2 linked regions of the Homo sapiens genome follow. The protein of the gene in region 1 interacts with the protein of each later gene in a pairwise test. Each region holds a gene or a part of one and is shown in the gene's direction. Other genes may lie near its edges.

Evidence for each region.
Region 2: the proteins of PPIL2 (region 1) and PRCC interact in a two-hybrid assay, tested with the Homo sapiens proteins (one large-scale study listed by BioGRID and IntAct).

What each region holds. Positions count from the first base shown.
Region 1 is NC_000022.11:21,672,512-21,676,011, forward strand, and holds part of PPIL2 (RING-type E3 ubiquitin-protein ligase PPIL2), read left to right. Parts: intron 1-2,552; coding exon 2,553-2,604; intron 2,605-3,500. UniProt on the Homo sapiens protein: Has a ubiquitin-protein ligase activity acting as an E3 ubiquitin protein ligase or as an ubiquitin-ubiquitin ligase promoting elongation of ubiquitin chains on substrates.
Region 2 is NC_000001.11:156,770,535-156,774,034, forward strand, and holds part of PRCC (proline-rich protein PRCC), read left to right. Parts: intron 1-3,500. UniProt on the Homo sapiens protein: May regulate cell cycle progression through interaction with MAD2L2.

The sequences.
Region 1 (3,500 bases):
AGTCTTCCCCTCCTCTCCCCACACCCATTCTTTTCCAGAAATGCTTCCGGCCTGTGCACGTGTATATATGTGCATGTCTTTTCTTGGGCCATAGCTGTGACCTCGTCTTAACTTGATTCTATCTGCAAAGACCCTATATAAACCTTTGATTATATCCAAGTCAGGCCACATTCACAGGTTCCCAGTGAGCATCAGTTTTGTGGGGACATTATGCAGCCTGGTTCCGAGGGAGATCTAGTGTATTTTACCAGTGACCTTGCCCTTCCTGTTGGAATTACTTGCATGTATTCCTCCACCTCTTTCCTATGGCCTGGGGCAAGAGCTCAAACTGTGCGAGACGGAGGGTCGGGACTCCGGTGGGCTCCCTGTGCTGGAGCCGCTGGGAGGGAGCTCCCTGGACAATATGACCCTCCCTACCGGGCCAGCAGGAGAAGCTGGCAGCCCATCTGTCTCAGCTCTTCTGGCCCTTGTGGTGTTCTGGGGGCTGCAGGGTTCTGGGGACTCTTTGTAGATGGAGTTGGTGCTCCTCCAAGGCTTCCCTGCTCTCCAGTACAAGGGGAACTTGGCCAGGGGGCTGGTTTTTGAGTGTTCTTGGACCAGCGACTAAAGCCCGTGGCTTTTCTCTTTCAAATGCTTGGGTAGGGGGCTTGTGGCCTCACCTCCTTAGGGAGGGCACTCTTCTTCCTTGGTCTTTGTCACTTGAAGACTGTTTCTGTGATGTCTGCTGCTGGGAGCCACATTGGATCCCAGGGGCTTCCCCCAAGGTCCGTGCCCCAGTCTGGGAAGTCATTCTCTGTTGCTCTTCTCAGCAGAGGTCCCTGCTGCCTGCCTGTGCCCTGTGTGGCTGGGTGTCGGCCTCAGGGAGCAGCCTGGTGGCAAGGTGGGGGTAGGTGGGGTTTTCCTGTCCACAGCTGCCCTCATGGCCCCTGCTGTCCCAGTGGATTCTGTCATTTGGTTGCAGCTGGGATGCATTTTGCTACTTTGGGTGTTTTGCTTCACAGGTACTCTTTGGGGTTCCCAAACTTGTCGATTGTGCTGGCCCCCACACCCACAAAGTCTGATCTGGCAGTTAGCCACGCTGTTAGGGCTTACATCAGGGAGGTGTGGCCATTTCTTTGTTCCAGGCATCATGTTGGGGTGAGTCTGCAGGAGCGCCCTACACGTCTTTATCCTGTGCCTGCGCCTCTCCCTTGGCCTGCTCTGGAAGGGACCTTGCTGTGTGCTTGCTTGGCCAGACCTATGGGTGTCAGCAGAGCCTTGCTAGCCAAACCTCTGAGGAGAGTTCCTGGGCCAAGGGCTGGCTGGCCCATGTGACTTTTGGGGGCTCAGGAGGAGCCTGTTGTGTTGGGGAGTCTCTCTGCTCAGGTCCTGTGTCTGAATAGGGACCCTGCTGGCCCTCTGGTGGTCTCCTCCACACCTGTAGTGATGTAGGGAGGTGGGGGTAGTTGAATGACAAAGGAAGGAACGAAGGTGGTTAGAGGAGCAGATGCGGTCAGTTGGGTTGGCCAGCAGCAGGCAGGGCCCACGGAGGGCGGGGAGGGCAGCTTAAGGACCTGCTGCCAGCTTAGGGCCCAGCCCCAGGAGGCTCCCGCTGTGTCTCCCCTGGGCCTGGGTAGGCATAGCTGGGCCCAGCCCACACCAGGTGGCAGCAGCTGCTGGATTGTGGCCCTGAGTGAGGTGCTCCCCAGCAGCACATAGCTCTGCCTCCCTTCCAGGGTCTCCCCACAGCCCCGCCCCCAGCAGTTCCCACCTCCGGTTGTCCAGACTTTGTTTTATGGGAAAGTTTGCTGTGGAAGAGCTGTACTGCAGACACACCACAGAAACTGAAAACATTACCTGCCACCTGGGGTAGGGGAAATAAGAAAAAAGAAAAAACATCCAGAAACAGAAAAATAGAGTCCCATCTTCCCAACACAACCATTCTTAGCATTGGAGTGTATTTCTTACTTTCTCCCCACTTTTAATGTTTTGTTTTTCTTAAATATTCATATGACAGAGCACTTTGGGAGGCTCAGGTGGGCAGATCATGAGGTCAGGAGATTAGCCTGGTGTGGTGGCGTGTGTCTGTAGTCCTAGCTACTCGGGAGGCTGAGGCAGGAGAATCACTTGAACTAGGGAGTGGGAGGTTGCAGTGAGCTGAGATGTTGCCGCTGTACTCCAGCCTGGTGACAGAGAGGGACTCTGTGTGTCCCACCACTCTAGCTGAAGAAATATGTTCACTTTTTAATTTTAGAAGTAATCTGTGCTCACCATAAAGACGTCCAAACCCTGCAGAAGTATAACACACACCACCCTGTGGCCTGGTCCTCCTGCTCGGGGTCACCCGTGACGGCTCTTCTCAGAGCGTGGTGGGGGTGCCACATAAACACAACTGCCCGACGCCATCCTGCAGCCCCCGTGAGGTCCTTGCAGGGTCTTGGGGCCTTCCCTTTTGTCCAGAGCTGCACAGGGTTGGCCTAGTCAGAGACTTTTCCTGCCTGTCTCTGACCCTAGCATCTCTGTGCATCAGTTACTTATTCATTATCATTAATTATTAACTGTGCTTCTTCCAGAAGCTGGACGGGAGGTCCCTGATCAAGCTGAACTTTTCCAAGAACAGTGAGGGTGAGTGGAACTATCACAGCCAATTCTGGGCTTGACCTGCAGACCCAAGGGCCCAGCTCTCACCAGTTTTCATACGGAATCAGTCATTGCTTTCTGACCAAGCTAGACACCTGCTTTTAATTCCGCAAAAAGTGTCACAGGGCTGGGCACGGTGGCTCACACCTGTAAACCCAGCAGTTTGGGAGGCCGAGGCGGATGGTTCACGAGGTCAAGAGATTGAGACCATCCTGGCCAACATGGTAAAACCCCGTTTCTACTAAAAATACAAAAATTAGCCGGGCATGGTGGCGGGCGCCTGTAGTCCCAGCTACTCGGGAGGCTGAGGCAGGAGAATCACTTGAACCCAGGAGGCAGAGGTTGCAGTGAGCCAAGATGGTGCCACTGCACTCCAGCCTGGCAACAGAGCGAGACTCTGTCTCAAAAAAAAAAGGTGTCACAAGATTTCTTCTCAAAGGTCTGGGTAGTTTTAAGGTGGGGGAGGTTGGGGGCAGAACCTGTGGTGTTGGGAACTTCCCACAAAGGCGATCAGGCCATTGTAAGCTGCTAGTGGCCTTTGTGGGCACAGTTGGATCTGCAGGGCATGGGCCCCCTCTGGCTGAGGCTGTGGTCTGTTTGTTGTTGGAGGCAGAAGTTGCTCATGCTGGGAACCAAGGCGGCAGCTGAGTAGGGGATGTGGGTGGTCTGGAGGGATTTGTCCAGTAGCTCTTGGGCTAGGCTTTTCTTTGCCACAGCTCATAGAGCCCAGCCCAGTGCTGCGGCTCCTGCTTCATGCCCATTACACACCTTCCGCTGTTCTTGTGGCCAGAGGCCCGGATGAGTTGTGCAGCCCACCCCTGCCCAGGTGGTGATCTTGTGCTAGGTTCTAGTCCAGGTCTTTTGCCTGTGGAGATGCTATG
Region 2 (3,500 bases), on another chromosome or scaffold:
CAGCTAATTTTGTATTTTTGGTAGAGACTGGGGTTTCTCCATGTTGGTCAGGCAGGTCTTCAACTCCTGACCTCAGGTGATCTGACCACCTTGGCCTCCCAAAGTGCCGGGATTACAGGTGTGAGCCACCACGCCAGCCAACCATTGTCTTTAAAAGAGCTGTGCCCCCTCCAGATGTAAGCCCCTCCAGTTCTGAGCTCTATGTCTTACACTTAGGCTCTTAGTACGCATTTGAAAGAATGAATTAGGTTTCCTTAAGTAAATAATTTCCCTTTAGAGTTTGGTGCTGAAGTAGAAGTAATTAGAAGTAATTAACTCTCAACCATTTCGTTCAATTGATATTGAGCTCTTTCTTTGTACCTGGAGCTAAGAATGTACAGTAGTGAACATGATAGCCCCAGCCCGAAAGGAGCTTATGATCTACTGGAGAAAACACAGAAGGAAATAGATTTTAGGACAAGGCAGAGAAGGACCGTGATAAGCTGGTGCCATTGGAGTATACCTAGTGGGCATTAGTCCAGTCTTGGGAGGTTGGGGAGCCCTCTGGGGGGAGATGTCTAAGCAGAGATAAGGCTGAAGAAAGGGTAGTATGGGAGCAGCACAGCAGAGGAAACAATGTATAAAAGCTTGGAGGACAGAGAGGGACAGTGCTTTCAGGGAACCTCAGGTGAGTAAAGCACAGTGGCTGGAGCATTTGAGAGGGTGGGGAGTGCTGAGAGAATGGGGCTAGAGAGAGAGAGGCTCAGGCCAGATAATGGGCCTTGGATGCCATGCTAGGGTCTTTCTACCTCATTTTGGGGTTGTGAAGACCCCTTAAAGGCAAGAATTCTCTGATCACAGAGTGGTGAGAACCTTGGAGGGAGCAAGACTGGCAGAATGTGAGAGGCTGGTGGCCTGGATGATGAACTAGGGGATGGAGAGAACTGGAGCATCGAGGTATATTTAGGAGGGGGAAGTGATAAGACTGGAGGATTGATTAGATGTTACACTAAGGAGAGGATTCAAGATTGACCCCCACTGCATTTGCCTCAGGCAGCTGGGGGGTGGTGTTGCCATTTATTGAGGGAATACGGGAGGCAGAGCAGATTGGGGGTTAGTTAGATTTCATTTGTTGCAAGTGTTAGAAGCCAACTCAAGCTAGTTTAAATGTTTTTTTTTTTTCTTCTTTTTTAAATAAATAGAGACGTTGTCTCGCTACATTGCCCAGGCTGGTCTTGAACTCTTGAGCTCAAGCAGCCCTCCTGCCTTGGCCTCTCAAAGTACTGGGATTACAGATGTGAGCCACCACGCCTAGCCTTAAATGGTAATGCATCATAAATATACTGTGGTACCTCAGAAGGGACCTGCATCAGGAACCTGAGATCTGTTGGGGATCTCTACACAGCTGTTCTTTGCACATCTGATTCATTTTTTAAAAAATTTGTTTTATTTTTAAATTTTAATATATTTATTTATTTATTTGTTTTGAGACCAGATTATGGGACTGGTCAATTTTTGTATTTTTAGTAGAGATGGGGTTTCACCATGTTGCCAAGGCTGGTCTCAAACTCCTGGGCTCAACTGATCTGCCTGCCTCAGCCTCCCAAAGTGCTGGGATTACAGGCGTGAGCCACTGCTTCTGGCCTTGATTCATTATTTCTCTGCGGATTGGCTTCTTAACCTTTGTTGTAGGTGAAGGATGGCCACCCACACCTTGGTTTTGATTTCTTTCCTTTTAGAGATCAGTCCAGATTGAACTATGATGGTAGTCTCAATTCTGGTTTTCCTGGAGTGAGAATTTGGTTGATTTGATTTGGGTCATATTATCCAATCATCTGCAGTCAGCGTAGTACCAAATTCTCCCTCCAGGCGTATTCCAAAATTAAATTCAGTCAGCTTTTGATTTTTGTGGGGAATTAGGAATGATCCATAGAATGGATAATCGTCCTTTCTTTTTCCCTTCTTGCTGTGACCCAAGCTACACTGGTTGATTTCATAGGCTCAGGGGAGGCAGACTTCTCCTAGCATATGAGAAACCAAAATCAGAAGAATAAGTCTGCTGGAAGAGTTTTCTATCATTTATAAAGTGTATTCCAAAGCACACAGAAATTTCAGGGTTATCTGGATTAGTATTTACCACCACTTTCAGATTGTTTACCAAGATAGTAGAAAATTTGAAGCTCTGAGACAGATTTCACTAATTTTTGTCACTTCTAGTAACCAAATAAGAATTGCCTGCAGTGGATTTAGCTAAGTTTTAGCCCTAGCTAAAGGGAAGGGAGAGTGTGCTTATCTGTGTGGGGCACCTGCTTAATGTCTGAACTGTGCTGGGCACTTACTTTAGTTTATAAAGAAGAAAACAGGAGTTTAGAGAACAGAAGTGATTTGCCTGAAAACACAGTTTGTGAGTAGCTGCAATTGTATTTGAACCTGGATGAGATTTGTTGTGTTTATCGGGGTGTCTATGGAAAACATGGAAGAGCCTGGGGCAGCCAGAAAGCAGAAAGCAATACAAATGAGGAGTGCAAAAATGGGAGTGAAAACGGTATCCTAGCAGCAGGTACTTGAGACTTAAGAGTGAAAAAGGGTTGATGAATGTAGCAAATGGGGATAACAGTAGTAATGATTAGGGTTTGGAGCCCCGGGGTGTGGTGCTTAGGGGGCGTCTGTTCTTGGGTTCTTATTTCCTCCTTGGCTTTTAGTCCTGGAAGCTAGTGATTGCTTTTTGGAGAGGGAGTGTCTCAGAGCCAGAGCCTGGGAAGATAAGAGAGAGGCCGCCGTGGGGAATGAGGCTCTGATAGATTAGCAGATCCCACTGGACCTAGCTTAATGGAAAATGTCTGTTTCCGTTCTTGCTCAGCAGTCTCGGGGTATGTGTGTCTTGTCACTCTTGGCAGCTGGAACAGAGAGGACAGTGGTGGCCATTGAGGCTCAGGTTCTCGTGAGGCCAAGAAGAAATACAATACTTTCTTATTAACAGACTCAACAGTTTGTGCCTCAAAACCAATGTGTGCCTATTGTGGCCCGGGACACTCTCAGCCCTGGATGCTCCGGTGTTTCTAGCATTGTCCTTCTTTCTTGATCTAATGGCACAGACCCACTCAGATGGCCATTTGCTGGTCTTTAGCACTCTCTAGAAGTTGACTCCACAACCTCCATTTAATATACTCTTGAGGAAAACAGTTTGGCAGTTCCTCAAAAGGTTAAACAAACAGAATGATGATCCACCAATTTCACTTCTAGGTGAAAAGAATCAAAAGTGGAGATTCAAACAGATACTTGTACACCAGTGTTCATAGTAGCAATACTCCCAGTAGCCAAAGGTGGCAACAACCCAAGTGTTCATCCACAAATGAATAGGTAAAATGTGGTATGTGCACACGTTAGGATATTATTCAACCTGAAAAAGGAATGAAATTCCGATACGTGCTACAACATGGATAGACCTTGAAGACATTATGCTAAGTAAAGTAAGCCAGTCACAAAAGGACAAATATTTTATAGTTGCGCTTATATGAGGT